Linked DNA regions of Homo sapiens. The protein of the gene in region 7 interacts with the protein of the main gene of each other region in a biochemical or structural test. Each region holds a gene or a part of one and is shown on either strand. Other genes may lie near its edges. The genes, in order: GOT1L1, PTPRG, SMCHD1, DUSP10, GJC1, MTMR1 and GRIP2.

The links.
Region 1: the proteins of GRIP2 (region 7) and GOT1L1 interact in a test that uses a peptide from one of them, tested with the Homo sapiens proteins (one large-scale study listed by IntAct).
Region 2: the proteins of GRIP2 (region 7) and PTPRG interact in a test that uses a peptide from one of them, tested with the Homo sapiens proteins (one large-scale study listed by IntAct).
Region 3: the proteins of GRIP2 (region 7) and SMCHD1 interact in a test that uses a peptide from one of them, tested with the Homo sapiens proteins (one large-scale study listed by IntAct).
Region 4: the proteins of GRIP2 (region 7) and DUSP10 interact in a test that uses a peptide from one of them, tested with the Homo sapiens proteins (one large-scale study listed by IntAct).
Region 5: the proteins of GRIP2 (region 7) and GJC1 interact in a test that uses a peptide from one of them, tested with the Homo sapiens proteins (one large-scale study listed by IntAct).
Region 6: the proteins of GRIP2 (region 7) and MTMR1 interact in a test that uses a peptide from one of them, tested with the Homo sapiens proteins (one large-scale study listed by IntAct).

Annotation. Positions count from the first base shown.
Region 1 is NC_000008.11:37,933,781-37,937,124, reverse strand, and holds the end of GOT1L1 (putative aspartate aminotransferase, cytoplasmic 2), read left to right. Parts: intron 1-67; coding exon 68-160; intron 161-254; coding exon 255-405; intron 406-1,255; coding exon 1,256-1,421; intron 1,422-1,670; exon of another isoform or gene 1,671-1,825; intron 1,826-1,909; coding exon 1,910-2,052; intron 2,053-2,638; coding exon 2,639-2,832; 3' UTR 2,833-2,844; downstream 2,845-3,344.
Region 2 is NC_000003.12:62,205,071-62,208,570, forward strand, and holds part of PTPRG (receptor-type tyrosine-protein phosphatase gamma isoform 1 precursor), read left to right. Parts: intron 1-3,500.
Region 3 is NC_000018.10:2,662,226-2,665,725, forward strand, and holds part of SMCHD1 (structural maintenance of chromosomes flexible hinge domain-containing protein 1), read left to right. Parts: intron 1-3,500. UniProt on the Homo sapiens protein: Non-canonical member of the structural maintenance of chromosomes (SMC) protein family that plays a key role in epigenetic silencing by regulating chromatin architecture.
Region 4 is NC_000001.11:221,732,090-221,735,589, reverse strand, and holds part of DUSP10 (dual specificity protein phosphatase 10), read left to right. Parts: exon of another isoform or gene 1-155; intron 156-3,500. UniProt on the Homo sapiens protein: Protein phosphatase involved in the inactivation of MAP kinases. Has a specificity for the MAPK11/MAPK12/MAPK13/MAPK14 subfamily. It preferably dephosphorylates p38.
Region 5 is NC_000017.11:44,799,288-44,802,787, reverse strand, and holds part of GJC1 (gap junction gamma-1 protein), read left to right. Parts: 3' UTR 1-3,500. UniProt on the Homo sapiens protein: One gap junction consists of a cluster of closely packed pairs of transmembrane channels, the connexons, through which materials of low MW diffuse from one cell to a neighboring cell.
Region 6 is NC_000023.11:150,759,396-150,762,501, forward strand, and holds part of MTMR1 (phosphatidylinositol-3-phosphate phosphatase MTMR1), read left to right. Parts: intron 1-3,106. UniProt on the Homo sapiens protein: Lipid phosphatase that specifically dephosphorylates the D-3 position of phosphatidylinositol 3-phosphate, generating phosphatidylinositol. Could also dephosphorylate phosphatidylinositol 3,5-bisphosphate to produce phosphatidylinositol 5-phosphate.
Region 7 is NC_000003.12:14,516,343-14,519,842, forward strand, and holds part of GRIP2 (glutamate receptor-interacting protein 2), read right to left. Parts: intron 1,556-3,500; coding exon 1,430-1,555; intron 872-1,429; coding exon 722-871; intron 1-721.

The DNA.
Region 1 (3,344 bases), on a different chromosome or scaffold from region 7:
CCCAAATGCCCTGGGGCCGCCACTCCTGGGTGGGGGTGAAGCCTGATGAGACCGTCTGTACCTGCAGCAGATCCCACATGGCTGTGTCCTTGTGATGGGGAACATTATCGACTGCAAGTTGACACCAAGTGGGTGGGCAAAGTTGATGTCCATGATAAAGGTAAACCCAATCTCCCACCCGACCTTCCTGTCTTTGACTCTCTGCTCTCTCCTCCATCTGTCTCATTCTTTTTTTGTTCTCCTTTCTCCTACAGAGCAAGCAGATATTCCCATTTTTTGATATTCCCTGTCAAGGTTTATACACCAGTGACTTGGAAGAAGATACTAGAATCTTACAATACTTTGTGTCTCAAGGCTTTGAGTTCTTCTGCAGCCAGTCTCTGTCCAAGAATTTTGGCATTTATGGTATGGTACAGGCAGAAGAAGGGAGGGTCTGTTGCTGAAGTGGTGCTGCGCTCACAGCACAGTGATGTTTTTGATATCTCATCCTTGGGAGGGAGCCAAGGACTCTAGGGAGAGCACTATAGAAGCAGAAGTGGGGAGCACTGAGCTAGAATTTGGTTCTGTTACTAAATCTAGTAACAGAACCCAACCCAGCTTGGCTTGGATCATTTCACCCCCTCAGGCCTCTGTTTCCTCAACTATAAGATGAGAGGGTGGGGCTGGCATGGTGGGTGACACCTGTAATCCCAGTTGACACCTCCTAATCCCTCCTTTGGGAGGTCAAGGTTAGGTGATCACTTGAGGCCAGGAATTCAAGACCAGCCTGGGCAACACACCGAGACCCGGTCTCTACAAACAATTAAAAAAATTAGTCGGGCATGGTGGTACACACCAGTAGTCCTACCCACCCGGGGGGCTGAGGCAGGAGGATTGCTTAAGCCCAGGAGGTAGAGGTTGCAGTGAGCTATGATTCCACCATTGCACTCTAGCCTGGGCAACAGAGAGAGATGGTCACTTTAAACAAATAAAAATAAAAATAAAAATAAAAAAGGAAAGGAAAGGAAAAAACAGGAGAGTAGAACTTAGTGATCTTTCAAATTCCTTCCTCCTTTAAGACTCTGACTTATGGGTACTTTTGCTGGAAGGAGAGCCTCTGGCAACTTCCCGGAGCCTGAATATCACCCTGGCTGGGCTGCAATGAGGGCCTTGTGGTTCAACCCTTTCTTCTGCAAGGTTGGGGGTTGAGATCTAGGTGAAGGCCTTGGGAGTGGAGGAAGGGGCTGAGGCTGAGGCTGTCTTCCCAACACTGCAGATGAAGGAGTGGGGATGCTAGTGGTGGTGGCAGTCAACAACCAGCAGCTGCTGTGTGTCCTCTCCCAGCTGGAAGGATTAGCCCAGGCCCTGTGGCTAAACCCCCCCAACACGGGTGCACGTGTCATCACCTCCATCCTCTGCAACCCTGCTCTGCTGGGAGAATGGTAAGGGTGAGGGCTGGAGCAGGAAGGGATGGGAGAGGCCCTGGGTGCCTGCAGACCTGCTGATCTGCAGGATTCGGCAGGGTGCTTCTCTCCTGCCCATGTGGCCTTTTTACTCCATTCATTCATCAACATTTACTAAGGACCTGATGTGTACCAATGGCGGTGGCTATGCCAAGGGTTGCCTTAGGGGACAGAGTGATAGGACATTTGTTTTGCACCCAGGCCAATGAGTTATATGAACTCTTCCAGATTGCTTGGGGAGATAAGAGAGCATCAGGGGCTTGCAACTCTGGCAAAATCTGCCTGGGAGCCTCCCTGGTTTGCTTAAATGAATATGAGATCAAACCTCCCTCCCACTCATAATCATCCCAGAGCCTCTGGCACTCTGTTGGAGACCTTTGAAGGTAAGAAGAGTGGACTGGCAATGAGGGAGGTTTGAGGGCAAGGGGGACCTCACACCCTCCTTTCTCATTGTCCTTCCTTGGTAGGAAGCAGAGTCTAAAAGAAGTTGTAGAGAACATCATGCTAACCAAGGAAAAAGTGAAGGAGAAACTCCAGCTCCTGGGAACCCCTGGGTCCTGGGGTCACATCACCGAGCAGAGTGGGACCCACGGCTATCTTGGACTCAACTGTAAGGGTCTAGGGGGCTGGTGTCCCCCCTTTCTGACCTTTGGCCTGTATTTGAGCATTAAACTTCACTGACTAGGTGACCAGTTCCTAGCTTCACTCCAGATTTTGATTCTGTCCTCTGGAAAATGGGCTGCTTTAAAGACACTTCTGGACCCCCAGAAGTACCGACACTCCCTATCCTTCATAAACCAGCCTGGGTGCCCGGTGCAGTGGCTCATGCCTGTAATCCCAACACTTTGAGAGGCCGAGGCGGGTGGGTCACCTGAGGTCAGGAGTTCGAGACCAGCCTGGCCAACATGGTGAAACCCCGTCTCTACTAAAAAATAAAATATGAAAATTAGCCGTGCATGGTGGTGCATCCTGTAATCATAGCTACTTGGGAGGTTGAGGCAGGAGAATCGCTTGAACCTGGGAGGCGAAGGTTGCAGTGAGCCAAGATTGCACCATTGAACTCCAGCCTGGGCAACAAGAGCAAAACTCCATCTCAATCAATCAATCAATAAAAAAATAAGAAAATAAACCAGCCTGGGCTAGAGGAGAATTCGAGATGGCCAGTCTCGAGATCTGAGACCTTGTCATGATTTTAGCCCAGCAGGTGGAATACCTGGTCAGGAAGAAGCACATCTATATCCCCAAGAACGGTCAGATTAACTTCAGCTGTATCAATGCCAACAACATAAATTACATCACTGAGGGCATCAATGAGGCTGTCCTCCTCACAGAGAGCTCAGAGATGTGTCTTCCAAAGGAAAAAAAAACACTGATTGGAATAAAACTTTAGTCTTTGCAAAAATCTTGTGCTGATTATTCATTACTACAATTCATTTCTTTGCTTATTTATGAAGCAGTGGTCTGGCCTCAGTACAGAGAAAGAGACAGAGAGAAAGAGAGAGAGAAAGGCCCAGAGGGGAAGGGTGTATCTACCTTCATTGGCCATCTCATATTTATTGAGCACCTACTACATTAAGGCCCTGAGCTGGCCGTGAAAGGGAGTACAAAAAACAGGTAGAAACCAGCCTGTTTTCTCCAGACACTTACAGTCTAGTTGGGAGACAAGCCTTAGTCACATAAAACACTTAAGTAACATTTTAAGGCTGAATGTGACAGAAGTCAGAATATATAAACAGAAAATGTGCCAGGAATTTAGAAAAGAAATACGTCAAAGTGGGCCAGAATAGATGGGGAGCATCTCATGAGGAGGTAGCACTTGATTGGGATATTGATAGACAGATGAATGGATTGGATGAATAATAACTAATAGAAGCTGGAAGGATATCCTAGGTCAATAACAAC
Region 2 (3,500 bases), about 48 Mb from region 7:
AAGCTGAGATCTCGTATGTTAAGATACAACTTAGAATAAATTTTCATGTTTTGAATTACTTTCCTCTTAAAGCTGCTATGAACTAATTTTTTGAAGTGGGGGTCTCCTGTGGGTATTGCTCACTTTAGCTGTGACTGGGGGAAAGGTGCAGAGTAGCCTTTTGTGGAACTGAGTGAAGGAAATGTGGGGCCACTTGGGAAGCTGTTTCTGTAAGAACAGTGACATTCCCTCTAGGAATTACTTTGAAAAAGTTGAATTTCTTGCATTTGAAGACGCTGAAGAAACATGTACGGAATGCCCACTGTATAAGAGGCACCAGGCTAGGCTTTGGCAGTAGAACATAGGTAACACAGACTTCTCTTCTCTTGGGGTTTGCATTCTGGTAGGGGAGCTTGAGAATATGCCAGTAAACAAATACATACCCTTAAGTAGCCTTAATTGCTACAGTTGGGGAGCGGAGGGACAGTGTAGCTCTGAGTGGTCAAGGATGACCTCTGAGCAGAGAGCCAAGTGGTAAGAAGGAGCTAGCCATGCAAAGATCCAGGGAGGGGAATTCTGGGCTGCAGGAACAGCAGGTCCAGAGACCCTACAGTGGGGAATTAATTTGGATCAGTTGAGGAGCTATCAGGCCAGTGTGGTTAGACCAGAGGGAGTGAGGGGGAGAGGAGGGGATGGATTTAGAGATTGATGGAGGTGCTCTGGAAAGGTACTCGTTGACCACGCTGAGGATTTCCTTCTACTAGAAATGAGAAACCAGGGTAGATCTTGGCTGCAGTGTTACTTGATTGATTTTTTGAAAGACCTCTCAGGCCTCTGCGTGGAGATGATATAGGAAGGCAGGAATGGATGAAAGAAGCCCAGTTAGGAGGCAGTGGTAATGGTGGCTTGGACCAGTGTGTTTTCTATGAAGACAGGTGGTGGACTTGGAATTGACTTTCAAGCTTGAGTGTTCAGCCTCTGGACTATGGGCTCTGGCAAAGTAGCATTCTCAGCCTGCTCCTCTTAAACATTTGTTTGACCACATTCCTGAAAAATGTGGCTGCTGAGAGCTTAGGCTGGGAGTATTTACAGTTTGAGAGATGGGAGAGAGGCAGGGACTGGGACCGCCCCAGGTAAGTGGAAATGAGTTCTTGCCATTGGAGTCAGGTTCCAGATTCCAGAGACAGGGGAGAAGAAATGGATGGCAAACTTTGGGGGCTCCCTACTCCAGGTATGAGGTGTGTAGGTCCTCGGCTTCCACCCTACAGAAATCTGAGAGCATCTACAATCTTGGCAGAGTGGCTTTGGGAGTCAGATCAACCCAGTTGGCTCTGTCCCTTATTCACTCAGGGTCCTCAGGTAAGTCTTAGTCCCGTGTCCTCGTTTGCAAAGTGGAGCTAATGATCATGCTTAATGCCGAAGGTGGTGTGGCTGTGGAGACCCCCTCACTGTCACTGACAAATAGGAGCTGTCAGCAGCCCAGGTGCCACACAATGATGGTGACTGTGAGGAGGCCCCCCACAGCCCTTTCCTTTGCTATTGTCTGTGGACATTAAAGCTACTGGTCCCCAAGTAACTGCCATTAAAAATGACCTCCAGATGGCCGAGTGCAGTGGCTCACTCCTGTAGTCCCAGGACTTTGGGAGGCCAAGGAGGGTGGATCGCTTAAATCCAGAAGTTCATGACCAGCCTGGGCAACATGGTGAAACCCCGTCTCTAGAAAAAATACAACAATTAGCAGGGCACAGCGGCTCATGCCTGTAGTCCAGCCACTCGGGAGGCTGAGGTGGGAGATCACTTGAGCCTGGAAGGCAGAGGCTGCAGTGAGAAGATCACACCACTGACAGAGCAAGACTCTGTCTCAAAAAAAAAAAAAAAAAAAAAAAAAAAGAAGGACCTCCTCCTGAAACTCAACACTGGTAAATCAGAGCTTTCCCTTATCACCTTCAGCAAAGTGAGAAGGTCCACTTCTGAAAGCTAAAAAAAACTTCCTTGAAAATTTCAAGCAGTTCAAGTCTGAAAATGGTGGTGATGATTGTTTAAGCCAGATATAAGCAAACTTTTTCAGCTAAGGGCCAGAGAGTAAATGTTTTTCAGTTTTGCAGGCCACAGGTCTCTGCTGCAGCTACTTAATTCTGCCTTGTAGCACAAAAGCCACCATAGACAATACACAGCTGAGAGGATGTGATAGTATTTCAATTAAAACTTTGTTTGCAGAAACAGGCGATGGGTCTGATATGGTCCACAATCTGTCATTTGCCAACCCCTGGTTTACACAGAAATCTGCATGTGCCTGTTGATTAGTAAAGGACGTGAGTGACCTGAAGGTAAAACAAGCAAATCCCACATCAGTCAATGATCCTTCAGGTCTTGCTTCACTTCCATTCACCCTGTCCTTTGCCCTGTCTGCCTCCTCCAGTATGGTATTTATTTTTTAATGAAATCGCCATCATTTTAATGTTAGTGATTTATTTTAAGGACTTTGTGTGTACATTTGCTTTAAATCTGTTACACATTTATTTTTTCTTCATATTAAGGAAAAACAATTACTTTAATCAATACCTGGTCTCTGAAAAGAGTGATAATGTGTAAAGTTACACACTGTTATATTTTTATGAGTATCTCCAAACAGCTTGTTTAAATCCCTTTGGTGTTTCATAACATATTTTTAAGTCCTGTGAGTAGTGGCTTTAATATATTATCTCCCAGGGAAGAAGAAGAAGGGAATCCTTCTATAGAAGAAGTGGCAAACCCAGACACCTACAGAAACCAGTTAATACTAATGAGAAACAAGGACCAGGTGTTAGACATTAGGGAGTGGTAAGGACTGCAGCAAATTAAAGAGCACATGACTTTTCTAAAGAGGGCCATCTCACTCAGCTCCAACAGATTACTGCCAGTGAGAATGCCTAGTGAGCCAGAAATCCAGGTTTTTGTGCAGAACCCCCCAACTTTTAAGTAAGCTCAAATTTTTAAAACAATTTCTGCTTTTTAAAAATGTAGGCCAAACTAAACCCATCCCTGGGCCAGGTAGGAACCGCGGGTGGTCAACCTCTACTGTAGTGTTGATTGCTAGAGTTGCAACTTCCTGAGAAGCCTTTCAGAAGGCTTGAAGGCCTAGGTGTACTCCCTCCCTTTCACCAGGCTTTTTTCTAGCGTTTCTTTAGTGCAAAGCCCTCAGCTGGATGTCTGCTACATGGAAATCCAGCATGTGGTCCCATCCTGAGGAGCCACAGCGTGAGCCCAGAAGCCAACTGATGCAATGAAATGTTCTTGGGGGTACTATGCAGTACAGCATACCCTACAAAAACATTTCAGAGTGGGCATCATCTACAAATTCATCATTTGGTGCTGGGATTTTCCATTTTTGTTTCCTTAAATTAGGGAAACTCTTTTTTCAGGTTGAATCTTGCTCAGAAACTCAGTATGTGAACACTCATTGCTGAAGGTTTACTGACTGCATCTTCTGGCTCAGCCCTGAGTCAGGTGCTAAGGGGACATTCCACTTCAGGGGTCGGCAT
Region 3 (3,500 bases), on a different chromosome or scaffold from region 7:
AAAAATAATAGACTTATGTGGGATTATATGGAATAATTAGATATGTTTAGGTGAACATAGATCTTAAAAAAATCATTTGCACATAGTTTTTCAGTAACTACAGGATGCATAATTACATGATTTAACAAGTGGGACATTGGCCAGGCCTGGTGGCTCACGCCTCTAATCCCAGCACTTTGGGAGGCCAAGGCAGGGAGATCATCTGAGGTCAGGAGTTTGAGACCAGCTGGCCAACGTGGTGAAACTCTGTCTCTACTAAAAATGCAAAAATTAGCCAGGTGTGGTGGCACACGCCTGTAGTCCCAGCTGCTTGGGAGGCAGAGGCAGGAGAATGGTGTGAACCCGGGCGGCGGAGCTTGCAGTGAGCTGAGATCGTGCCATTGCACTCCAGCCTGCACAACAGAGCAAGACTCCATCTCAACAACAATAACAACAAAAAACCAAAAAAAAAAAAAAAAAAAAAAAGGGACATCATAGAAATAAAAAAGTAGTAATGAATTAAAAAATACACGACTGTCATGGTTATATGAAACCTAATAAAAATCTATAAGGTCATTTTTGTCTCTGTTAAACAAATAGAATCTTCCCAGTCAGTTTATGTTCATGGCTTTATTTCTCTAGGGTGGAATTGCATGGAATATGAGTATCTTTTAAGTTTACTAAAGTATGCCAAATTAATTACTTTCTTTATGTTTGACTTTTTTTCAGTCATATCAGCAGTGTGTAAGGTACCTATTTCTCTGTACAGAGGCCTACACTTGATGGGCTCAGAATTTAACATTTTTGCCTACCTGATGAGAATAAGTTATATTAATTTCACTGATAACTAGTGATGTTGATCTTTTTATGTTGTCTGGTCTTTTTCTTTATGACTTGTGCTATTTGCATCTTTTGAGACAGAGTCTCACTCAAAAGTCACCCAAGCTAGAGTGCAGTAGTGTGTGATCACGGCTCACTGCAGCCTCGGCTTCCCAGGCTCAGGGGATCGTCCAACCTCAGCCTCTTGAGTGGTTGTGACTACACGTGTGCACCACCATGCCCAGCTATTTTTTTTTTTTCCATTTTTTGTAGAGATGGGGTTTTACCACATTGCCCAGGCTGGTCTTGAACTCCTGAGTTCAAGCAATCCGCCCACCTTGGCCTCCCAGAGTGCTGGGATTACAGCTGTGAACCACTGTGCCTGGCCCACTGTTTGTACCTTTTCAGAAATCCCTTTATGCTCACTCAAAATTATTTCCCTATGTGTTCTTTTACAATTTTGGGCTAATGTACAACTGCTTTAATTCTCCTGGAATTTATTTTTGTCTAAGTTAAGGTGTGGATTTTATCTGTTTCCATGTTGAGATAACTAGTTGTCTTAATATCATTCATTGGATAGTTTATTCTTTCCCCACCAATTTGTAATGTCACCTCTCTTGTTTGCTAGGCTCTGCATCCATATATATGTGGACCTGTCTAAGGGCCCTCTATTCTCTTCCACTGGTCTATTCCAGGAATTTTTTTTTTTAAGACGGAGTCTCGCTCTGTCGCCCAGGCTGGAGTGCAGTGGCGCGATCTCACCTTACTGCCAGCTCCACCTCCCGGGTTCACGCCATTCTCCTGCCTCAGCCTCCCGAGTAGTTGGGACTACAGGCGCCTGCCACCACGCCTGGCTAATTTTTTTGTACTTTTAGTAGAGACGGGGTTTCACCGTGTTAGCCAGGATGGTCTCGATCTCCTGCCCTCGTGATCCACCCTCCTCAGCCTCCCAAAGTGCTGGGATTACAGGTTTGAGCCACCGCGCCCGGCCTATTCCAGGATATTTTAAAGTAGAAATTTTCTTATGAAAACCTTCAGACACAAAGAGAGAATCATGTTATGAACCCCAGTGTACTCATCCAGATTCAAGTTAATAGGAATTTACCACACTAGGATCATTTTTGTTTTTGTAATGTATTTAAGGCATATTCTAGGTCTTAGGTCATTTCACCCCATATACTTCAGCCTGAATATGTATTATCAAACCATTAAAATAAAGCATTTTTAATATTGTCTAATGTCCCTGTCCATATTGAGTTCTCTGAATGTTTAAAAGTATCTTTTTATAGTTGGTTTGTTTAAATCAGGATCTGACATAGTCCTCACATTAAATTTGTTTTTTTTTTGTTTCCTAATTATTTTCAATTTAAAGCATTTGAGCAAATTCCTCCTCCACCAGTCTCTTTAGTTTTCCTGCAGTTGACCTCTTGAAGAAATCAACTAGGTCTTTAATATTCCACATTATGGATTTGTTTGTGCTCTTTTTTGGTGTTACTTAATTTGTTTTATCTCCGTATGTATTCTGTAAACTAAAAGTTAGCTTTAAAGGCTTGATTTGATTTAGGTTCAACTTCTTTGGGGTCAGGAGGCAAAGAATGCTTTGTAGGTAGTACTGATACTTCATATGGCATTACACTGGGAGGCACGTGATGTGTGGGTGTTTCACCCACTCATAGCAATGCTAACATTAAAATCTTGGGATTCACGTGATTTCAGCAGGATTCCTCCATAAGGAAGTTTTGATCTGACTTGCCATTCCTCCTGTGTTTATTAGCTGGAATTCTTTAAGGAACAACTTTGCCTCATCAGCCAGAGCTATTTTGGTTATCCTGAAGTACCATTGATACAAGAAAAGCAGTGTAAATAATTTGTTCTTTCCCTTTAATTTGTCAGTGTTCAGAGTGACAAGTTGGTGCCCTAGCTCATCCCAGTGGTGAGCAATAATGGTTTTTATTAATATCATTTTTGAAGATTTGAGTATCACTAGTCTAGATTTTTTAGATGTTTTCAATAAGAATGTTAATCTTTAGACTAGTCCATTACTACCCGAAACAGAAGCCTTTTCTCTTAACTATATATTGCTGTATTGTTTCATTTTAGACAGAGCATGTATGTTTTAATTCTAATGTAAATGAAAATGTTAACCACTTTTCTAATTCTCATTTTTTGATTAATGTGATTTTACAGTTCATGTGTTCATTGGTCATTTGTATTTTCTCCTTTTCATTTTTTTGTGTTTTTACTTTTTCTCTTTGTTGATCCTTGTCACCCTTTTGTTTCTTGTTGCAATTTCCCTCTAATTTTTTTTTTTCTTTGAGACGGAGTCTCATTCTGTTGCTCAGGCTGGAGTGCAGTGGTGTGATCTTGGCTCACTGCAACCTCCGCCTCCCCAGTTCAAGTGATTCTCCTGCCTTGGCCTCCTGAGTAGCTGGGATTACAGGTGTGCGCCACCACACCTGGCTAATTTTTGTATTTTTAGTAGAGACAGGGTTTCACCATGTTGGTCGGGCTGGTCTTGAACTCCTGACCTTGTGATCCGACGGCCTCAGCCTCCCAAAGTGCTGGGATGACAGGCATGAGCTACCATGCCTGGCCAGTTTCCCTCTAATTTATAATTTGCTTTAATTTTTAAAGTTATTCGTTTGAATGGACCTGTATGTCTTACAAAGCATGGCTGTTCTTCCCTCCGTGCTATAAAATGC
Region 4 (3,500 bases), on a different chromosome or scaffold from region 7:
TTTTCCTATTTGCTTTCTCTTTTCTGTTGAAATATTTAAAAATATAGATAATGTTTTAATGTATTTAAGTATGTTTAATGTGTAAATTAATGTTTCAAATTCAATAAAGCTGGAAATATTTTATAGTATACTATGAACATTTTCACTCGTAAACACTTGAGTGTCATGTACCCATTTTTAAGTGCTTTTCAACTTCGAATCCCTCTGTGACTGACTGGCAGTCAGGTCTACAGAGGAGCTTCCCTCCCTGGGAGTAGGAGGGCTCCAGGTGCCTCCTTGGGGTCTGTGTGTCCCCCTTCCTCCCTGGTATGTCAGAGCCCATGCCTCTACTTGCTCTATGCTGTTGTAAAACAAGGAATGACCAACTGCTACAATCTTTATAGGACTGCTCTGTACCAAAGGCCTTTACTGGGGGAATGTGAGAAGAAGAGGGAAATGGTTTAAAAGGATGATCCATGGGGAGGATTTGATCATGCAGGCAGTTAGGCCTTTATACTATAAAACTTCATCACTCCTTAGAATTGAGCACCATACATTGCACACTTTTCCCTAGTTGAAAAGAATTCTGAAATATACTCTTATTGGCAATAGAGTTCTATGACAAAGTGGATGGCTAGGCTCAGAAATCAGAGACCTGTGAAAAATATTCTGTTTCTGCCCTTTTTTCGGGGGTGGGGTGGGGAAGGGAATAAAAGTCTCCCCTTTTCTCTCAGAGATGTTATGAGGATTTTAAAAAATACCTGAAATAAAGACATATCTACATTCATAAACGTGCTGTTGTTATTCTGAGCCTCTGGTTAACATCCAAGGCTAAAATGTCAAACATTAGCCTTGTAGCAAATGATGGAGAAATCAAGGCAGAACTTCGGATCTAGTCAGCCTGAATGCTAGCCTTGGCTCCCCTCTAACTAGGTATGTGCCCTTGGGGAAGGAACTGAATCCTTCAGTTCCTTAGTTACCTCATTAACAAAAAGAGGATATAACAATAGCTATCTCAAAGTGTTAGTTTCTGAAATAAATGAATTAATGTGTGTAAAGTGTTCAGAACTTTATACACATACATGGTAAGCACTCCATAAATATGGTAGAATGTTTTTATTGATATTGATTGAAAGGAAATGATAGTGCCAGTACAAAGGCAAATTTTGTTCCTAAGGAGTACAAATAACAAGCTAGGTATAGTAGAGTGTGTGTGTTGCTATGGCCTAAAAATAACTTGGTGACTGTTAACTAATTTAAGTTGCATAGAGTTGGAGTGCCAAGTAATTGCAAAAACATATTGGGCCAGGAGGCTGGAGTAATTTGGGTATATCCAGAATTATTTGTTTTAGGGAAATTTGTAAAAACATGATAATAATTCTGTCCAAATAATGTCCCATAACAAAAGCATAAAACTTTTTAGCTTTGCTTTTTGTTGCCTCTCATCATCTCATCAGGAGGATTTATTTTTGGAATAAGGATTGTGGACTGACTATAAAAGGGTAGATGGAAGGAGGGGTGCGCTGGTTCCTGAGCCTAGGGTTGTGTTGAGTTAGAATGTGAAGGAAAAAGGAGGGAAGGAGTTGAATGGCCTGCTCCTGTCTTTCAGGAAGTCCTGAAACTTCTTTCTGAACTGCTGCACAGTTAGTTGGCTGTCCTCTCTCTGAGCTTTTGGGTACACTCTCCTGCTTCCTAATTTAAGTGTAGGTGAACAGATAATAGAAATGAACTCTCTCTCCCAGCCATGTTCTTGCTTTATCTGTTCCTCATTCACGATGTGCTCAGCAGAGTGAAATTTTGCTCACTTACACCTGGGTTCAAATCTAGGCATTTCCATTGACCAACTGTATGCCTTTAGGCAAATCAGGGGGCCTCTCAGAGGCCAGGTTTTCTTCATTGTAAAACAGGGACAGCTCCAGCATCCTAGGTTGAAACAAGGTGATACAAAGTACCTGGCATTTGATGGCTGTCAATAAATCAAGCCTCTGGACCCTGCTCTCCTACTCTCATGCACTAATGTAAGAACCTCTTACATTGCAGGGGCAGGGGTATTGGGGAGGATGGGCAAGTCGTTCTAAGCACAGTACTGTGGGAGCCTGTTAAGTATGAATACTCTTGCCCTTACCAATTCAGAACAGTTAATTAACTTAATCATCCAGCTTGTCATGGACAAGTTCAAGAAACTCCTCTCCTGGCAATAGGAGACATGATTTCACATTAGAAAAGCAAAGCAGGGGAAGGAAACTGAATAGGTAAAGCACTTTGCCTATTTCTGTTTTCAAAGCACGTGTGTATAGGAGAAAGGAGAAGGGAGAATGGTGAATATGTACACTTTTCTACTTGGTCCTTTAGGCAAACCCATCTGAAGGTCTGACAAAATTACAGGAGCAGAAAAACTTTCCGTCACATACTCCTGGTGCATACACCCTCAGGGACTAAGTGGGAGCTTTTGACCAGTAGCAAAAATCTAGTTCCTTAAACCCTGCATTATCAGAAGCCAGAACCTCCAAGCCCCAGCATTGCTGAAGAGCAGTTTGGGCATGAATGTGTGATATATCGGAGTGCTTAGGCAGTTTAATCCAAGTTGGTTGAAAAAGATAGACTACATATTAAGGAGAGAAATTCTAGTTCCAGGAGAGGTCATCTCACCTTTTTGGAACTAAAGAATCCCAGCTTTGAGAAGAGCAAGGAACTTTAGAGGGCCCCTAATCCAGTAGTTTTCACTGCAGGCTGTTCATTGGTATCACCTGAAGGTGATTTATAACCTATGATGCCCAGTTCGTGTGTCCAGAAAGCCTGATTAAATTGGTCTGGGGTGCAGCCTGCACATCAAGATTTTTTTAAAGCTCCCAAAGTGATTCTAACAGGCAGCAAAGTTTGAGAACCATTGATCTAGTCCGGTATTCTCATTATGCCACTACAGGAATGGGGCTTGTCCAAGGTCACATGCATGATTAATTTTAGAGATTTAGTCCTTAATGTTAAAGTAGGTCTTGCCAGGTTCAACAGATTCAATAGATATCAACAGACTGAGGTATTCGTATGTATCATTATTTAATAACAACAGAATCTAATATATAGCATAAAATATAAGATTTTTTGAGTACTGATGCCTTTTTTCTTGAATTTTGAGATTTCAGTTCAGAACTAAAAAGACCAAAGTCTGAGGACTTTCAAAACCAGCAGTTCATGGTCTATATATTTACCTGGATATTAGAATATGGACCAAATATTAATGTTGATTTAATCTCTTCATCTGGGGAACCTAGTGGTTTAAGCTGTTAACCTAGTGGTTTCAGCTGTTAACAGCTATCAAAACAGGTATCAAAGAAGCCCAACCATCTTAGGCTTCTAGGGACTTTTTGGTAGGTGGTCTCCACAGCTGTACAAACTTGTGGGCAGAGGAGATTCATTTGTTTGTTCAATAAATATTGTTGAATGCCTTTGGTGTGCTAGGCACTAATCTGCAGGCTGGGCAATCTGCATCACAATGCTTATCATTCAAATGCAAGAAAGACAAC
Region 5 (3,500 bases), on a different chromosome or scaffold from region 7:
TTTGGGTTCAAGTGATCCTCCCGCCTCAGCCTCTCAAAGTGTTAGTATTATAGGTGTGAGCCACCATGCCCAGCCTAGAAAATTTAACCTTATCTTTTAGCCATTCATTTACTTTTATTTGCTTTTTTAAAAAAAAATCTTTAAATTTTAGCCTAGAGAAGCACCTCAGGAACTCTAAACATCTTAGGCAAAAATTAAACTCAGGTGAGACTGAAGGAGAAATTTCAGAAATACACATGTACCTCATGGGTAATTAATAGACATGCACAGTTTCCTTCAAATCAAATGTTTAATAAGGAAATTCATATAATTCCAAGAAAACAGGCAAAATTTGGAATACATAAGCCTAGCTAAGATAAAGAACTACCAGTTAATTCTTAACATCACTGGAGCTTCCAGCAGGTTTTTTAATTGAAGGACAAAAAGTGTCCATACATTTGTGTTATCTCTTCAGAGCCTGAGGGAGAAGAGAGTGGCTTTGCCCAGTGGAAAGGCTGGGGATTTGAGAATGATACAGGGGGAAGGAGTCAAGCAGAAATGCCAGGAAGAACCAGGCAAAGACATTTGGCGCCAGAAGCATCCACTTAATTTCTGTGAAGAGTGCCCCTGGTGTTTCATCTTGGCCTGTTTTGATGAGAATGTTATCTTTTGTGTCTGGATAACGCGTCAGCTTCTTAAAGTACATATAAAGATATTCTGTCACCTCCCCACATGCACACACTTTTAAAATCTATTTTTATTCTCTTGCTAAAGTTGTAATTATGTCAAGAATTTTCCAGCTCTAACTGCCTTCTTAGTACATGTCTTTCTGCCTTTGAAGCATATGAGTTTGCCAAAGTCATTCTCCCCTAATGACATATTGTGGACTTACATTAAGAAAATGGGCCAGGCGCGGTGGCTCACACCTGTAATCCCAGCACTTTAGGAGGCCCAGGCGGGTGGATTACCTGAGGTCAGGAGTTCAAGACCAGACTGGTCAACATGGTGAAACTCCATCTCTACTAAAAATACAGAAATTAGCCAGGAGTGCTGGGTGGACGCCTGCAATCCCAGCTACTTGGGAGGTTGAGGCAGGAGAATTGCTTGAACCCAGGAGGCAGAGGTTGCAGTGAGCTGAGATCATACCATTGCACTCCAGCCTGCAAGACAGAGTGAAACTCTTGTCTCAAAAAAAAAAAAAGAAAAAAAGAAAGTGAGCCTGTTGATGTCTAGCTAACCCATTGGTGGAGTCTGCATTGAATCTGTAAGAATATTGTTCTGGATCATGCAGGTGGGATTTGTATAAAAAGCCTGTCCAACATTTAGTTCTCACTCGCATCAGAATCATACTGTTTTGAATTGCCATATAAGACATGCTCCATCATGACACTTGCTTCTCCTCCAAATACAAGTTGAGTGCTTAGTCCTTCACCTGCTAGAATCAGGATACAATCAACATGATTATGTTCCTTAACACACTTGGATTTATGCAGATGTGGTGTGTCCTTTGCTCTTTTTTTTCTTAAGACAGAGTCTTGCTCTTGTCGCTCAGGCTGGAGTGCAGTGGTGTGATTTCGGCTCACTGCAACCTCCGCCTCCTGGGTTCAAGCGATTCTCCTGCCTCAGCCTCCCGAGTAGCTGGGATTACAGGCACCACCACCATACCAGGCTGATTTTTTTTGTATTTTTAATATAGACAGGGCTTCATCATGTTGGCCAGGCTGGCAGGCTGGTCTCGAACTCCTCACCTCGTGATCCGCCCACCTCAGCTTCCCAAAGTGCTGTGATTACAGGCGTGAGCCACCGCGCCTGGCCTGCTCTTAAAACCCGTTATTCAGAAGATTTGTAAAAGAAATAGGCTTTTTTTTTTTTTTTGGTTAATTCAAACGAGGGGAAAATTAGATAGCATTTTCCCCTAAAGAAATGTTAATGTTCATTTTGTGGCTTTGTTTTCAAGTTTCAGGAGCCATGTACATCTCAGAAGTGTTACGAAGTGATTAGAAAAGGCCTCTGGTAAAAGACCTTCAAGGACCAACCATTATTATTGGTCACTTGTTTGAACTTGGCGCTTAAAAAAAAAGTTGGACTGTGATGCTTTGGTGCTCTTTATCACAGACATCAGTGATGGTCTGAAACACTCTCTAGCAGTTTATACGAAGAATGGACTTACATGTTATCAGTTACACTCATGATTTACTCGTTCAGCTTCTACAAGTCCATACTTTATGCTGTCTCATTTAAGAGACAGTCCACTTCTGAAAATAAAATCGATAGTTGATGATACATTTTTGGCTAGCCAGCTTTCTGTAAAAGGCAAGTATGTTAGACATGCACAGTTTCCTTCAAATCAAATGTTTAATAAGGTACTTCAAGAAACGCCTTTTTAAAAATCAAAGGTTTTGGCCAGGCATGGTGGCTCACGCCTGTAATCCCAGCACTTTGGGAGGCCAAGGTGGGCGAATCACAAGGTCAGGAGTTTGAGACCAGCCTGGCCAACATGGTGAAACCCCGTCTCTACTAAAAATACCAAAAATTAGCCGGGCGTGGTGGTGGGTACCTGTAATCCCAGCTACTCAGGAGGCTGAGATGAGAATCACTTGATCCCAGGAGGTAGAGGTTGCAGTGAGCCGAGATTGCGCCATTGCACTTCAGCCTGGGCAACGAGTGAAACTCTCAAAAAAAAATTCATAGTAATAATAAAGTCCCTGCATGCAGTTTGGAAATAAAATTTAAACTCATTTATGTGTAATAAATATGTAATAATTCACAGTCACCATCAAATGTTGGAATCATTGAATTGCATACTTGTACTCATTCCGGCCACATCATGAAGTGTTTAAAGATTTGTATTTGCTGTTGTCCCTATGTAGTTCTATTGATGTTTGGTTTTGTTTTTTGGGGTTTGTTTTGAGCCCAGGCTAGAGTGCAATGGCACAATCTCAACTCACTACAGCCTGGACCTCCTTGGCTCAAGCAGTCCTCCCACTTCAGCCTCCCAAGTAGCTGGTCTGCAAGTGCTCACCACCACACCTGGCTAATTTTTGTATTTTTTGTAGAGACAGAGCTCTCACTATGTTGCCTAGACTGGTCTCAAACTCCTGGGCCCAAGCAATCCTCCCATCACAGCCTCCGAAGGTGCTGGGATTACAGGCATAAGCCACTGTGCCCAGCCTGTTTTTAATAATGATATTAAGTGGGTTTGGTTCATGTGTTATTAATCAGTGTTAATAATCGTACTTTTTTTTTTTTTTAAAAGAAACCATGGTATTCTAAAATCAGGAGTCCAAATAAAAGAAAGTTCTCGGCTGTGCATGGTGGCTAACACCTGTAATCCCAGCACTTTGGGAGGCTGAGGTGGGTGGATCACTAGAGGTCAGGAGTTTGAAACAAGCCTGGCCAACATGGTAAAACCCCCTCTCTACTAAAAATACAAAAATTAGCCGGGCATGGTGGTGCACACCTGTAATCCCAGCTACTCGGGATGTTGAGGCATGAGATTTCCTTGAACCTGGAAGGCAGAG
Region 6 (3,106 bases), on a different chromosome or scaffold from region 7:
AGGCCCGGGTGGTTGGTGGAGTGTCATGAACATTAGCAGAAAATCCAACAGAACCATGCCTGATCTGGAGTGCCTTTGGCTAAACAGAGCCTCTCGATTACTGCAGGAGACCCCCGTACCCCTGCCACGCTCCCCCTTGTGCAGCAGGTTGCAGAGGTGAAGAAATGCTGAACCAGCAGAGAGGGTTAGAGTGGTGTCCCACAGGGGTGCACCCAGGCTCAGATTCTTGCCCGCCGCGTGAGGCAGGTAACAGACCTTTCCTAAAACCTACAAACTGCGCGACAGATCTGTTCCCAGATGTGGTCAGGTTCTCACTCATGTAGGCGAAGCCACCTGCAACATCATGATGATGATGGAAACCACAGCGACAGCGCCTATAACCTGCAGTCCTCTTGTGTGCCAGTGGGTTCTGTACACACATGATCCCAGTTAACGCTCCCAGCAATTCCACGACGTAGAGAATGAGGGAAGGGTCAGAGAAGCAGTGACTTGGTTGAAATCTTGCTGCCCAGTGCGTGTAGTTGTGGAAGGATGCCCCCGACAGGGCCAGATCCCGTCTCTGGCAGTGACTCACCGCCTGATCTGCAGCAGGGTCCTGAGCCTCACGGGGACCTCACAGGGGGTTGCTGAGCAGGAAGTGAATCCATTCCAAGTGCACTGTGCTCGGAGGGTAGTAGGTGTGTGGTCCTGCTTTTTGCATTCTCCCTCCATTGTGCTACACAGAAGAGAGAACCAAAAAAGAGTACATGGGCCGCAGCTTGTTATCCTGTATGCAACAGGCATGTGTCGGACACCTCCTAGGTGTGGGAATGGGGGTGGGGGAGTGCATTGAAGACAGGCAGAGATCAGTGGCTGGTGTGGGTGTCCAGTGACAGGGCCTGAGGAGCCAGGTGAGGCAGAGAGAAGGAGGAAGAGAGGGGAGGGGAGGGAGTGCAGGGGGGTAAACGACAGGGCAGATGCAAGCCTGTTGGGCCTCTTTTCTCTGAGAAGGCAGTGGCTCGATTGGCTGCCGAGAAAGGGGTTCTTTGGGCATCCATCAGAGGATGGCTGGGTGTGGAAGGCCCAGGGGCGTCCTATTTCCTTTGGGACTGTCTTGCCTTATGTCTTGTGATGCTAGTACCCATGCGGCAAACATGACTGGCCCTTAGATGGGAATTTTCTCTAACACAATCCTCTGTTTAAGCCTCCGAGTTTTCTATTCCTTCAGGCATGCCCTTGATTTGTTGCAAATGAAAATATGTGAGTAGGCCAGGCGCGGTGGCTCACGCCTGTAATCCCAGCAGTTTGGGAGGCCAAGGCGGGCAGATCACTTGAGATCAGGAGTTCGAGACTAGCCTGGCCAACATAGTGAAACCTCATCTCTATTAAAAATACAAAAATTAGCCAGACACAGTGGTGGCGGGCGCCTGTAATCCCAGCTGCTCAGGAGGCTGAGGCAGGAGAATCGCTTGAATTCGGGAGGCGGAGGTTGCAGTGAGCTGAGATCGTGCCGCTGCACTCCAGCCTGGGGGAGAGAGTGAGACTGCATTCCGCCTCAAAAAAAAAAAAAAAAAGAAAAAGAAAAGAAATAGGTGAGAAAAGATGCAAACAGCTGGTGAAGAGATGATAGTGGTGCGTTTGAGCAGTGCTGGGTCTGCCCTGGGTGTGTGTCAGTGGTGTATTTCCCTGCGTGTCTTGCTTCTTGCTGAGGTCACATGCCTGTAGATGGATAATGGGAACTTGATTGCAAGGCGTCCCTTGTCTGATCAGAATTAAATGATCCTACAGACAGGAAAACGCATGCCAGATGGGTCCTAAGGGTAAGAGAGGAGCTGGTGCCACCTCCCAGAGGCCTGTGGGATCTGCCTTTGCCATCACACTCCACTCCTGTCCCCTCTGTTCTTCCTGTGGCCTGCCCAAGGGGGTCATTTCTTCTCAGCCCACTGGGTGCTGGTTACTGAGCACCTTGTTATTAGAGGGACCTGGCTGCCCCCTTGCGGTCTCGCTCTCATCCTCCTTCCGTCTCCCCCTTCCCTCCAGGAGGGCTGATCACCATTGGCACACACGGTGGAACAGCTCAGTCTTTGAGGGAGTGGGGGAAGGACCTGGTGAAAGATGAGCCAGAGGGCCAGGCTGGGGCCAGACTGCAGAGGGCCTCGAGGCCCCTCTCAGGGCAGGGGGAAGAAGTCCCTGGAAGGTGTTAAGTGGCCAGTCACATGGCCTGGCTGAGGCTTAGGAGCCAGCCCTGTGGCTGCTGTTTACACATGGGATCAGAGACAAGGGAAGGCTAGGGAGCTCCCCAGACCCCACCCTGTTTCTCCCTCAGCCCAGTCGGTGACCCCTCACTCTGGTCAGCCTTGCCCCCAGCCAAAGAGCTCCAGGTGAGAAAAGCTGGGTCTCGGATGTCTGGCCTCCTAGTAGCTGCTGGGGACAGCTTGTTAGGCGAGTGGGTTGGGTGCTATGACTATAAAATAGCAGGACTGGATGTCCCATATGCCCCGGGAAAACCTTTCTTGTTTATATTCACCCCTGCCCCACAGTTGATGGGTTTAAAAGAGAAAAGCTAATTAAAGGTGAGGCCTTGCGGTGATGCTGAGCAAGGAGGGAGGGGTTGGTCCTTGGGGAGGCTCCCCACCCCCCTGCCGGCACTGCCCGCTCCGGGGGGCTTCTGGCAGATCCTGCTCCGGTTGATGAAAACACAGCTTCAAGTTGTAAAAAGTGCTGATTTAACAGAAGGATTTTCAGTCAGCAGAGCTATTTATAAAAATGCAAAAATACAGAGATAATGGAGATGCTGGAAAGGGGTCTGCGTGGAAACATTTCTGACGCACAGTCTTTAGGACACTGCTCGTGCCGAGTCTGCACACGGCGCCCTCGGTTGATCCATGGTGCGCAGTGTCCCCGTGCCTGCTTGTCTTCTGAGAAACTGTGGGAGCCTCCCCATGGTGCCTTTTCATCCCGGCTCAGCGGCTCGGCCCCCGGAGCTGCAGGGCGGCCTCAGTGGCAGCCAAAGCTCATGGGATGGGGTCCCATTGTCCACCTGACGCGAGATCGGTCAACGCCTCAGGAGACTTTGGCCGCTCCAGGAGTCTGGATGGTGAAAAGCTCCTGAAGCCAACAGCATCTC
Region 7 (3,500 bases):
ATCTTCTATCCTTCCTGGAGGCCTCTGCAGCTCATGTGGCAGGAGGCTGAGAACCCTTTCTGCATCAACAAAGGAAAGACTGTTCCCAAGAAGGGTTTCAAAATTTTAGGCATTATTGTGTTTTGCCACTTCCACAGGGCTCCTGCCTTATCATTCACTACTTTTGTCTTCTATTGATTTACTTTTCTTAACATGTAAATATCTTTATTTCAAAAGGGCAATTTTGAACAATAAATAAGCAGAGAAGTAAGACTGGAAATTATTACATTCTGGACAGCTAGAGTCTCAGGCCATGTCTTTGTCTTAGGGGAAATTAACAAATGGCAGAGAGGTGGTAAGGATATAGTAACGCAGCACTGAGGCTTTATCCATGAATGAATCAGGACTGAATGGCAAAAAATGTGAAAACTTCATGCACATCTGAAAAGACTTCCTTTCCTCAAGGACGTTATCACCAAATCCTAGGAATTTTTCATAATAAAAATACAAGAATAAAAGTGTACAAAGTAACTGGCACCTCTCAGTGGTCCTCTTGAGCAGTGCACAACCTGCCCAACCATCCATGACAGCCTGGTGTTCCACTCATGTTATTTAACATTCCCACGCATACACCTGGAGCTCTGCCCAAAATACCTCCCCTCGCCCTGACATACACCCTTTGGCAAGCCTCACTCTCAGACATACAAGCAGCCCAAGGAGGAGGGAAGAGACCACAGCTTACACGAGCTCTTGTGTTCCCTTCTTCGCTGCCTCCTCCGCCCCATTGTAGTTCGAGGACTCATGGGCTGGGATCCACGGGGAAGGGTGCTGGGGTTGTTGCAGGAAAAGGCGTGGTTCAAGGTCGGCGAGGAAAAGGGAGTTGAAGACAAGGCTGGGGAGATGAGAGCACAGCCCCGTGAACCCCAGCCGAGGCTCTCCACCCCACCACACAGTGGGTGCTGGGAAGCCACCCAACCACAGGGAGAGATGGGGATGCCTTCCCCCTTCACATCAGTTACTCATTGTGTGACCTCAGGCAAGTCCCTTTCCTCTCTGGGTCTCAAAGACTGCAGGGTTTCCATAGACCCTGTGAAACTCAGCTATTAGGGACGGGGCCAATCTTGCCACTGGCATGCTAGATGACAATGAGGCAGGCCACCTAATCTCTCTCTCTTTTTTTTTTTTTTTTTTTTTTTTTTAGTTGAGGTCTCGCTCTGTCACCCAGGCTGAAGTGCGGCGGTGTGATCTTGACTCACTGCAGCCTCAACCTCCCAGGCTGAAGCGATCCTCCCGCCTCAGCCTCCCGAGTGGCTGGGACCACAGGCGTGCACCACCACACCCAGCTCACTAATCTCTGAGTCTGAGTTTCCTTCCCTTAGACAACAGGCATCGCCCCCTCCCTAGGAAAGGCTACAAGACTGGCTGAGCTACAGCAGGGCAGGCACATTACATCGGCTTTGGTCCTGGCCAGCAGGTGTGGCCCAGGTGGGCATCCTGCAGTGGCCGGGCCGGGGGCTGTGGCAGGAGGGCACGCAGGGGTCCCAGCGGTGCAGCTGCTCACTCCTCTGCACTTTCACTGTAGCCAGCGGAGAAAGAGGAAAGAGAGGTGCAGGCGTTAGTGGCTGAGGGCACTATGAAGCCAGGAAAGCAAGAACCAGAAGATCCTCGTGCTTCCCCTGAGCCAGGCAAGGCATTTAGTATTCTGCTCACATGTCCCGGACGCCTACAATGTGCCGGGCACTGTGTTCAGAGTGCAGCTGCTGCCACATGGCAGCCTGAGAGGCAGGGACAGGAGAGAGAAAGGAAGCCAGGCCGAGGCCCACTGCTGGGAGGTTGTGGAGCAGGGATTTGAACACAGGCATCCTGCCCTGGAGCCGGAGAGGTCTATGGCTATGAGTGCTGCCATGAAGTTTCTCCAAGAAAGAATTGGTGAGGAGTGCAGCTGGCAGACGGTGTCCAGCTGCAGCACTTTGGGGATATGCAGTGGCTCTGCAGCCCAGGCAGCCTCGGCCAGTGGCTGAGCACCGGGGCACTAGGGCCTGGCTATTTCTGCCCCACGACTCTCCAGGACAGCCTTTGCTCCAGGGCTTCCTGCTGGGTTGGCCAAGGCTGAAGTGCACCACGGGCTGAGGCTGCTCCCCCTTCCCAGGCTGCAACCCTTCCCAGCCTTATCCACAGTGAATTCTTTGCACTCCTGTTCCAAGTTCCCAGGGAACCCCCACTGCCCCGACCCCCTAGGAGACCCTGCTTCCTCCATCTGATCCTCCAAACTGGCCACCATACAACACCTCTTCCCAGACCGCCCCAGGCCAGCTCTCCTCTTGCGCGGATGGACAGGTGAGGACTCAACTGTCTCAGCCCGTTGATTCTGTCTCCTTGAGCCACATCTCCACAGCCCCCCTCCCCAGGGCTTGGCCCACTCTGGAGCCAGTTGCCTGGGTCAAATCCCAGCTCTGTCCCTGACCAACTGCGGGACCTGGAGGAGTCACTTCGCCTATCTGTGCCTCAGTGCTATTATCTGTAAAATGGGACCAAGAGAGTGGCCACCTCCTCGGGTAATGGGGAGGGTTAGAATGAGTTAATAATATAACATGCTTAGAGCAGTGCCTGGCACTTAGTAGAAGCTCAGTTAATGAGAGCCAAGGGGTTGTACGCAGATGTGTAGCCTTGCAACGCTACCTCAGCTTTCCCTGTAAAGTGGGAGGACAGTAAGACTAAGCTCAGAGAGGTGTCATGAGGAAGTAATGAGGCGTGCAGGCCGCGGCACCGAACCTGGCACGTGGCAGATGCTCGATAAATGGTACGAGAATGAATGACGCTGTTTCAAGCCCTAATGTCACCCAGACCAGTCCCTGGACTGTGGTTCATTCAGTGTGGCTTTTTCAGAAGCTGGCAGAGACCATAGAGATGGACTCTCCCCAAGAACTGTCCTCCCAATCAGATGTGGGGGATTCCGTTCTCTTCCAGAAGATGGGGTTTGCAAAGGGTGGGGTGGACAGACTCCTTCCTCACCCTCCAGCTCTGCCCTTAGGGCTAGGATTTATAGGCCTGGGCTGTGCCTTGTCCTTTATCTCCGTCAGCCTCCCCCATGTCTGTGCATTAGAAGTCCTCCCTCCTTTTTACAGATGAGATGACTGGGACTCAGAGAGGGAAAAGCACTTGTCCAGCTGCTGGGAGCAAAGATGGGACTTTCACTCAAGGCCCAAGGTTTGGGCTGCTGGACGTGCTTTCCTGCCCTGAGCTGAAAGCTGCCCCTCTGTGGCCACCCCCCACCCTGCCCCTGGCCCCAACTGTGCCCTCTGGACCCCCAGACCACCCACTTCCTCTGCTCTTGGAAATGCCCAGCACCCAGCTCCCTGCTCATAGCTGGGAGACCCTGACTCTTCAAAGGAGAAACTCCAGGCCCTCTCTAACTTCCCAGCTGCCTCCTCTGGATCTGCTGAGAGTCACTGAGAAGAGCCCAGGATCTAAGCTCTGAGTAGCAGAGAGCACAGGACTGTTCCCTCCCTCATTCTAGCCCT